Regions from separate parts of the Homo sapiens genome. Here region 2 is linked to region 1. The links come from fine-mapping of genetic effects on gene expression. A gene starts in region 1. The other region holds a variant in brackets. All regions are shown on one strand. Distances are from middle to middle.

Region 1 (5,392 bases):
CAAACCAGAAAATACATTCTAACTAGAACTTTCACCCATTGTGCATCATTTTTACCTTGTTTTAGAGAACTGGGTATTCTATTTTTCTTGCTTCCATTAAAGAACAAGTCGATACTCAACAGTTAATAAATCTCTGATGGCAGTATACACTAATGTTGTCTAGCAGTACATTCTATCTCCTGCTAGAAATATACCTTCCTGGGCATGAAACTGTGTTTACCATTTTACATTCTTATTACTACTACATGACTCTTGGCAGGGAATAAAAGTTTGTTAAGTTAATGAATGGGTGACCTTCAAATAATTACTAGTTATGAAACCATGAGCAACTCACACTCTGGATCTCAGTGCTCTCTTCTCTAAATGAGGCAGTTGGACCAATTGACCCCCAATGTGCCATATTAAGATAGTTGTTGGAGAGAGAGGGAGCTCTTCATTAAAAAAAAAAAAACACACACACACACACACACACACACACAAACCACTGGATTTATAAAAGCTAGAAGATTACTCATATCAAGAATATGGGCATGGGATAATGTCAAAAGACAATTCGTTTTTAGAAAAGTTTCATTATGTTGGCCAGAAAAGGAAGTAACTGAAGCAAGTGATAAATACTGCATGGAGAAGGACCCAAGGAGTTGGGAGGGGCGGGGCGGGGGGGGAGCGGAATGCATGGGAGGAACAAGAATAATTGGAATGCTATAAATATTGATTCACATTACTCTTGCATTATTCACAATAGCAAGTGCCTCAAAGTATTGCTTAGTATCAAGTGAAATAAAAGGCATTTTCTGCCTAAACTGTTTAATCTAGAAGTTTGAAACAAACTGTACCCCATTCTCTAACAAAATTGTTAAACTGAAATTACAAAAGAGGTAACCTGCTCAAAGTTTGAAAGACATGGTTGGTTTATTTATAGATGCTAGCAAAGTCTGCTCTGCTGAAGACCATCAGAGCCACAGTTTTCAAGAATGTCAATATGCAATAGTTAAAATATTAATAATATTAAGTTATGGGCTCTAAGTCCTTTCTTGTCACTTTTCATTGACACAAATATACTTCTTATTTAACTGAAAGCAATCCCTAAAGCTTATTTATGTAAAAATGCACTAGCCAACAGAAATAGCTACAACCAAAATTACATTACCTAAAAAATTCTAGAAAGGTATGAGAAATTTATTTCTATTCAGCAAATTAAGAAACTTTCACTCAGAATATACTTTCTTGTTGCATTTCTCACCACGAACACTCCAGTAATATTAATACCTAAGTGAAGTTTTTTAATTTAAAAAACATTTTTATATCACTGAGTAATTTGCAAATGCATTTGAAATGCTTCAAAAAGAACTAAATAAAACTGCCTTAACGTCCATTTGAAAATATAAATCTACTTCTGCATTCAACCAAGTTGACCGTTTTCCTTTGACCAAGTTAGTAAAGCCAGTGGAGTAGGGAGGTGGTGTTGGTAGAGTTTCTCTGCAAAGCCACCTGCCAAGAAGCAGGGCTACCAATTCACCAGGCTGGGATTTGTCAGGCCGGGCAGGTAAATGCGTGACGCTACACATGAGCGGTTTTTCTGTGCTTACCGACTGTTGAAAATAATTACGTATAATTTTAAACGCGCATTGCTTTAAAACAGGTTGCAAAGTGATTTTAGAAACTACAGGACCCTGACCCGGGTGCTGGGGAAAGTTCCAGCTCCTCAGAAGTTGCAGACACTGAGGGTAGCCCGCTGGCCAGAACTCCCAGCGCGCTCCCTCCTCGTGGCGTCCAGATGCCCCTCAGAGAAGTCAGGGACAGAAGAACCCTCTGGGCTGCCTGGCGGCAGGATAAAAAGGAGAAGCCCTGTCTCAGGGACGCCCTGGCCTCAGTGCCCGAGTGCAGTTGTCTAACGATGGCCCGTGGTCTCCGCAGAGCCCCGTAGCCCGGCCTCGGCGTCAAGCCCCTCCGAATGCGCGACTACCCACCTGGGGGCGCTGGGCCGCAGGGGGCGGGGTCCGGGCTCCCAAGCCCCTTGCCTGGCGCTGCTGGCAGCATTGTGGCGGTTGAAGCCGAGGGGCCTGCGCACTGCTGCCCGCCGAGCGCTACCTGGACTCTCCCGGCCAGAGACTCCCCGCGATTTTCTCTTCCTTTGGCCCTCGGCTCTCCCCAGCCCGCTTGCCACCCGCGGAGGCTGCGGCCAGGTCTCAGGAAACGCAGCCCCGGGGCTCATGCCCGCAAGGCCAGGGCTCCGCTCTGCTGGGCGCCCAGAGGAAGTGAAACTGCTCAGGGGCCTGCTCTTACATCCCTTCTCAAAAGGCCGCTTTGGTTTCTTATAACACTTCTGCGCCTGTTTCCTTCCTCACCTTTTCATCCTAGGATATATTTAGACCGCTGTTATTGTAGCTCTCCTTGTCCCTTTCTAGGTCTTCCATACTGCCATACTGCCCCCACTTCCAGGCAGACGTAGGGAAACCAGAAGTGAACATTTGCTGGAAAGAAAGAATAATTAGATAGATAGATGAGTAGGTACACAGATGATAGATACATACATATAGAAATGAAGATACAGATAATACTGTAACTTTTAAAATATTTCATTTTACACAGACTTTCTAGGCTAGGTTCATAAATTGAAAAGTGATTTAAAATTCCATATAAAATGTATTTCTTACTCCTGCTCCAACTCAAAAATAGACCCAGTAAAAAATTATTTATGGCTCTAAATACCCTCTCCAAACAAGAGTTTGTTTGCTTGTTTTTAAGATGGAGATATATCAAAGGAGTTGTCCCAGAACCTTAAAGTGAATGTCTCTCTCTCAAGCATGTCTAAACTAGTCATTTGCCTTTTGAAGTTGAATATATTTTTTGAATATCAATTTGGTAATAATACATAGTTTAAATGTTCCTCTCCTCTTCCTATAAAAGGAAGGCTTTCTTTGAAACTTTCTCTCGGATGAAGTGCTTTTTAGTAATAATATAAATATCAAGTATCAAAAAAAGTTAATTTTTTCACATAAATGAACTTATTAGAACTTTATAACATAATGTAGAAAACTTGGAGAAGTATGCGAAATGTCCAAAAAACTTGAAAACAATTATAGATTGTATTGTATTTATCTGGTTTCCAGTAGTTTCTTTAACATCATTATTAATTTTATGTTGATTTTCTGAACTTTATATAATGGAACAAAAGATTTCATCTAACTTATGAAATATTATATTGAAAAAAATGGTTGTCTTCTATATATGCCTGTTAACAGAGAGACTTCAGTGTAATAGGCAAAAACAAATTTGGATTGCAGGGTTTGGGTGTTGTTCAGTGTTTCAGAAACTCAATTCTTAGGAAAGTATGTCTTAAACCCATTGGAGAAAAGAATATTCTAACTGATGCATCTGCTGGTATACGTATTCCTGACAAGAGCTACTTTAGCCAACATGAACACTCCAGATGATGCTCCCCAATTAAGTATCCAGATCTTCAAAGGCACCCATTTATGCACACGAAAACTTGTTAATAAAGACAGTGTTCAGATAGGAACTTGTATCTGTCACATATACAGGACAGCCTTCTTGTATGAAGAGCCCTGGATTGGAAGTCAGAAGGTTGCAGCTGCCATCCTGACTCTGCTCCACAATATCTGGGTGTTTGGAGCAATTCTTAATATTTCTGAGCCTTGCGTATCTCATCTAATTTATTCATTATTAATGAATAAATTAAAATTACTGTATTCGAGTTTCTGCCAGATATAAAATGTTATAACACTGTCTCCTAATAAAACTATAGAAAATAAGATTTATAATATGAAAATTAAGTATATTTTCAGAAGCTCATTTCCACTACTTATGTCAAATGATGCTAGTAAATAGAAAAAAGAAAGTAAAAACTGCTGAAAATTGTGGGCTGTTTTTTTTTTAAAAAAAATAAGATTATGTGTTAGAAAATCTTTAAAATCTCCCATTAAAATTATTCTAGCTTCACTTTTCTTTTGAATAAGAAAATAGCCATTGACTACCCCATTGACTGACTTATTTATTCTTTTGTTTTACTGTTTGCAGTCAACAACTACTCTTTTTTTAAGTATTCTATATCCTATGTTCTATGTAAGAGTTTCACAATATTCATGTCATTTGGTTCTCAAAACAAGGAAGGTTTAACCATATTTTACAAATGAAGAATCTGGGCGTTGAAAACTGTAAGTGGCAGAGCTGGAATTCAATCCTAGATCTGATTTCATAGCCTGCCCTCTTAATTATAACTGCCCCCCTCCCCACCGCTTCCTTTTAAGGTCACATAAGGCCCTTGCTAAAGATTACATGAACATAATAGGATAGGTTATACATATATGTGTTGAAAACGTTTTTTGTTTCCCTATCCACTTTTCCACAGAACTATAAGCCCATACAATTAAATACTAATATCCTTAAAAATAGGTATGAACTGTACTTATAATTTATTACAATTTTGGTGCTATTTGGTTGAGGATATATAGATGTTCACACACGCGCACACACACACATACACGTGATAACTTAAGTCTACATGTTTTCATACTTTGCTGATGCATTTATAAAAATATATTTTAAAAGATTTTTTACTCATTTTGGTCTTGTTTCTGTGTCAAGTACGTCTTTAATCACAGTTGACTTTATTTTTCCCCTGCTTTCTCCCTTAAGGAGATGATACCATCTGGAATGTTGGGTTATCTCTTGGTTCATACTTGTTCTCAGGAAAGAGGCACTTAGCAATTCTCACACCGAGAGGCTTTTTCAGGCAAAATACCACCAGCAGTGTGTAATCGCAGGTTTCTGATTTTACCTCTGTTACAGAATGACAAGAAAATGCTAGTCACAGTAGGTTTCTCATTTCTCAATATATCAAACTCTTGGATCCATTGACTTCTTCCCTTGCATTATTTTTTTTAGCGGCATATTGACAGCCTCAATATTATTACCCCACTCTGTGAAGATTATAAAAGCCTCACACTGGCCCTGTGTTCCAATAAATGGACAGCTAAAGCTGTTTGGTGTTGCCCTGCAGTTGCCATGGCTGATTTCTTGTGTCCTTTGCAGACCAGATGCTGTTGTGCATGCTAATGGCTTTATTTCTGCCTTTAGATTCTGGATATGTTTAAAGAACAAAACTGGTTCTTTTCTAAAGCAGTAATCTATTGTAAAAGTGAAATAGTTGCTTCTTCATGGCTATTTGTTAATTGGGGAATATTCCTCTTGACAATCATGTCTGGATTTTTAGACATTGAATTATATTATTCCCCCAGGGTGTTAACTACACTTCTTATTTACTCCCTCAAAACTAAACCAAATACCAGGGATGTCTGAAGGAATTTTTAGCAATTTTTTTTTGTCATTACTGGGAGGCTTTATTTTCTTTTGCTTCCTCACATTTAAT
Region 2 (5,392 bases), 58 kb before region 1:
TCCACATCAGCAATAAAGTTGTTTTGCTTTCTTATCATTTGTGTGTTCACTGGAGTAGCACTTTTAATTTTCTTCAAGAACTTTTCCTTTGCACTCACAACTTGGCTAATTGTTTGAAGAAAGAATCCTAGCTTTCTACCTATATTGGCTTTTAACATGCCTTTCTCACTAAGCTTAATTATTTTTAGCTTTTTATTTTAAGCGAGAGATGTGTGACTCTTTCTTTCACTTGAACACTTGGAGGCCATTGTAGGCTTATTCATTGGCCTAATTTCAATAGTGTTTTGTCTCAGGGAATAGGGAGGCCCAAGCAGAGGGAGAGAGATGGGGGAATACCCAGTCAGTGAAGCAGTCAGAATACACAAAACGTCTATTGCTTAAATTCACTGTCTTGTATGGGTGCAGTCCATGGCACCCAAAACAATCACAATGGTAACACCAAAGATCATTTGTCACAGATCACCACAACAGACATAATGATAATGAAAAAAGTTTGAAATAGTGCAAGAATCACCAAAATGTGACACAGAAACATGAGGCAAGTGCATACTGTTGGAAGAATGGTGCCAATAGACTTGCTCAACAAAAGGTTGCCACAAACCTTCAATTTGTAAAAAATGCAGTGTCTGTGTAGCACAAAAAAGCAAAGCACAGGCCGGGCACGGTGGCTTATGCCTGTAATACCAGCACTTTGGGAGGCTGGGGCAGGCAGATCACTTGAGGTCAAGAGTTCGAGACCAGCCTGGCCAACATGGTGAAACCCCGTCCCTACCAAAAAATACAAAAAAAAAAAAAAATTAGTTGGGTGTCATGGCACACGCCTGTAATCCCAGCTACTTGGGAGGCTGAGACAGGAGAATTGCTTGGGCCCAGGAAGCAGAGGTTGCAGTGAGCCTAGATCACACCACTGTACTCCAGCCTGGGTGACAAAGCAAGACTCCCTCTCAAAAAAACAAACCAACCAACCAAACAAACAAACAAACAAAAAGACACCCAAACACAAATTCAAAGCAGAACAAATCAAGGTATGCTCATATTAAGTGCAATAATAAAAATATTTTATACTCTAATGAGTTTTTACAGTTTATCAAGACTTTTACTGACATTGTATTTCATTCTGAACACACCCTTAAAAATATAATCCCTATCCAGTGATGGATTACTGAATTTCTGTCAAACATTTAAAACTATTTGTAGACAGCTCTTATATTCTGTGAGTGAGAAACTGTTCCTCCTCAATAAAATGTGAAGCCAAATAGAATCTTTCTTTCCTCTTCTAACACTTTTCTAAAATGTGCAGAGAATATAGTATTTTGTATCAAACAGACATAGAAAACTAAAAAGCAGATAGAATTAACCTAGGAATAAAGTAACAGAGCCATAAGTAGTAAATTCAATAGAAAAATCCCAAATTTTCCAAAGTAAATAAATGACGAAGTTTTTCCGGCCCTTGGGTAGAAAATGAAACTTCACTGATGTTTAGATAACAATTTGAGTTAATTTTCCTTTTTATATAAGCTTTAAATAGTTTAGAAGGTAATTAGATAGACATAATCATATATATACACACACACAAATTTTATTGTGTATATATACACACACATAAATTTTTTTATATAGTATGTGTTAATACATACAAATTACCTATATTTCCATGTCCTAAGAATATGAGTGTGTGTATACATATATATGCTTATATATTTGTGTGTGTGTGTATATGTGTGTGTGTGCGTGTGTATCTCCATGTCCTAACTAAAAACGCCACCACCACTGTATGTTCATTGTTAAGCTAAAGACATGTATTGGGCATTCAGGTTGGCCTCCTCAGAAGTGGGTCTGAAACTTAAAATGGTGAAGAGAAGAGAGAGAACATTCTAGCCATTGGACCTATATTCTCATAACTCCTTTCTCCAGTCTCCATGAGATCCAGGAAGTGACCAGCACTCAATAACTATTGGTAAAATAAATGCATTATTGTATATCAACTGAACATACTTCAAGGAGATGAGGTTGGAAGAAGCGGATTAAGAGTAAAAAAGTACCAAACCTCTCTTTGAGAAAGGCCTACCTGCAATTGCCATGAGACTCCAGGAAGTAATGACAACTTTAATGTTTCAATTTCTGGTATTGCCTTCAGTACACTACAGGTTTTTACATGTAACTGTGGAACCTAGTGTGATAGGCTTAAGTAAAGTACAAGGGGGCTAAGTGCAGGGAAGTAAGAGCAAGGCATGTATGTCCAGCCCCAGTTGCCTCCGTGGCTCAGCAGATAAGGGGATAAGCCTATGATGCAGCTAGAACTTGGGGAGTGATTGCATCGCTGAAAGGGAGAGGTGGGAGGATGCTAGAAGGGCATAAACAAGATCCTGGAATGAGAGACTAGGAAGAGAATGAAGGGACATCCATCTCTAATGCCTAAAAGTTAGAGACCCTTGCCATTGCAAAAAGTATGAAAAAGAGGCTGTATATTAAAATTACCTATGTTTAAGTAACAATAGAATTGTTTTGTTCTGTTTTGTTTTTACTATCACGATTGAATAGCTAAATTAAATAATAAAGCATGAAGCAATTAACAAAATAATAT[T/C]ACTCTTCACTTTAAACTGCATGCCCTTGACACTGGATTGTATTTCTCTTATATCTCAAGTGCATGACTGTATTATCTTAGCAAATGGATCTAGTGCCTAATCTTTCCTTTCCCAGTGTAGCAAGGTAAACCTTAAGTTACTGTGTAGAAACTGGAGTGTTTTTAGTGATGACTTCTAGCTAGCAAGTGAAATGGAAGCCATAATTAATTTATTGCCTAAAAGAAAAAAAATTAAAATATGGGTTTGACCTAAAATGAATACCGGAGATCATGGCGGACAGGAGGAGGCAGGACTAGAGTGCAACTCCAGACAGAGCAGCAAGCGGGGGCTCGCATTGTGAATTTTAGCTCCAGATTAACTACAAGAACAAACCAGCAATCCCGAGAGGACCCACAGACCCTCTGGAGGAAGCGGACTGCTCCTACAGGACCCAGGAGACCCCCCCCAAAACTATGAGTGCCCCAACTGCGGAAGTGGGAAAGAGAGACCCTCCTCTCCCGAACACACAGCCCCACTGGAGAAGCTGAAGATCTGTTTGCGGGAGAAGTGTCTAACTTTCCCTGACTGAGTCAATTTGGAGAGCAGAGCAAAACACCGAGGTAGAGGAGGTAGCAGAAAGGCCCTGGGAGCTCACTGGGTTCCCAGGCAGCCATTCCTCGCTGGCGCCAAAGGGATCCATCAGGAAGATGGCCAGAGGAGCAGGGGGTAAAACTCCACAGGGAGAAGGAATTCTCTAGCTGAACTTTGTAACAATTTGAACGGGGCAAGAAGCTTCCTGGCCAGAACTCAGGGGAGGGAGCGAATCCGGCAAAATCGTGGAACCAACCCAAATGCCCATCAATCAACGAGTGGATAAAGAAACTGTGTGAGACATATGTGTGTGTGTGTGTGTGTGTGTGTGTGTGTGTGTGTGTATGATGGAATACTACGCAGACATAAAAAGGAATGAATTAACAGCATTTGCAGTGACCTGGATGAGATTGGAGACTATTATTCTAAGTGAAGTAACTCAGGAGTGGAAAACCAAACATCGTATGTTCTCAATGATATCTGGGAGCTAAGCTGCGAGGAGACAAAGGCATAAGAATGATGCAATGGATTTGAGGGACCTGTGGGAGTGAGGGATAGAAGACTACAAATATGGTGCAGTGTATATTGCTTGGGTGATGGGTGCACCAAAATCTTACAGATCACCACTAAAGAACTTACACATGTAACCAAATACCACCTGCACCCCAATAACTTATGGAAAAATTAAAAATAATAATAGTAAAAAAAACTAAAAAGAGACAAAATACAAAAATAAATACCCCAAACTTCTCATGAATATGAATAACAACTAACAACTACTGAACATTGACTATGTGCCAGTACTATTCTTAGTGCCTTGCATATATTAACTCACTATATACATACACACACACACACACACACACACACACACACACACACTCTGCCAACCCAAGAGGCAGGCAATAATATTATCCTTGTTATATGGATTTCTTTGAACAAATATTTACCAGCCAACTATGTACCAGGTGCTATTCAGGATGCAGAGGACATGGTGGTAAGCCTTCCTTCATACGACTTGCAATCTAATGAGGGGAGGCAAACGATATATGAGTAAAATCTGGAGCGCAGCAGATGCTGACAGGGAGGGTGAGGAAAAGGGATGGAAGTTGCCATTTTTAATAAGGAAAATAAGGTTCTGAGCAATAAATGAACTCTTCAAGGCCACACAGCTAGTTATTGCTGAAGTCAGGAGAATACCTAGCTAGTCAGACTTCAGAGAACCTTGATCACTACTAGATATGGTTTGGCTCTGTGTTCCTACACAAATCTCATCTCGAATTGTAATCCCCAGGTGTTAAGGGAGGAATCTGGTAGGAGGTGACTAGATCACGGGGGTGGTTTCCCCCATGCTGTTCTCATGATAGTGAGTCAGTTCTCACAAGATCTGCTTGTTTAAAACTGTAGCACTTCCCCTGCCCTCTCTATCTCCTGCTGCCATGTAAGATATTCCTTGCTTCCCCTTCACCTTCCACCATGATTTTAAGTTTCCTGAGGCCTTCTTGGCCATGCAGAACTGTGAGTTATTTAAATTACCCAGTCTTAAAAATTACCCAGTCTTCTTAAAAATTACCCAGTCTTAAAAATTACCCAGTCTTGAGTGTTCTTTATAGCAGTGTGAAAACAGACTAATACACTACCCTATACTGTTTCCCAACCCACAGTTTTATCCATGCATACAGCAGTCAATTTATCACAGGAATTATCTGATGGAATCAAAAACACAAAATTTTCAGAGCTGTTAAAAACAACATATCCTTGCAATAGTTTGCTGAGAATGATGGTTTCCAGCTTCATCCATGTCCCTACAAAGGACATGAACTCATCATTTTGTATGGCTGCATAGTATTCCATGGTATATATGTGCCACATTTTCTTAATCCAGTCTATCATTGTTGGACATTTGGGTTGGTTCCCAGTCTTTGCTATTGTGAACAGTGCGGCAATAAACATACGTGTGCCAAACACCACATGTTCTCACTCATAGGTGGGAATTGAACAATAGGAACACATGGACACAGGAAAGGGAACATCATACACTGGGGCCTGTTGTGGGGTGGGGGAAGGGGGGAGGGATAGCATTAGGAGGTATACCTAATGGTAAATGACGAGTTAATGGGTGCAGCACACCAACATGGCACATGTATACATATGTAACAAACCTGCACGTTGTGCACCTGTACCTTAAAACTTAAAGTATAATAAAAACAAAAACAAAAACAAAAACCCTATGGCCC

What was found. PIP is the estimated chance that this variant, and not a neighbour inherited with it, causes the effect.
Region 2: its variant is the best candidate, but not a certain one, in a credible set for the expression of BANK1 in subcutaneous fat (TwinsUK, PIP 0.53).

What each region holds. Positions count from the first base shown.
Region 1 is chr4:101,787,529-101,792,920 of GRCh38, reverse strand. BANK1 (B cell scaffold protein with ankyrin repeats 1) reads right to left here and starts at 2,191. Exons shown (of 17, transcript NM_017935.5): 1 at 1,971-2,191. The coding sequence starts at 2,040. RefSeq lists a silencer at 1,915-2,104.
Region 2 is chr4:101,845,844-101,851,235 of GRCh38, reverse strand. The region is part of intron 2 of BANK1 (B cell scaffold protein with ankyrin repeats 1); the gene reads right to left. Among named protein-coding and RNA genes, the nearest start is that of BANK1, 58 kb to the right of the region's middle. The variant T/C (reference allele first, on the strand shown) is at 2,585.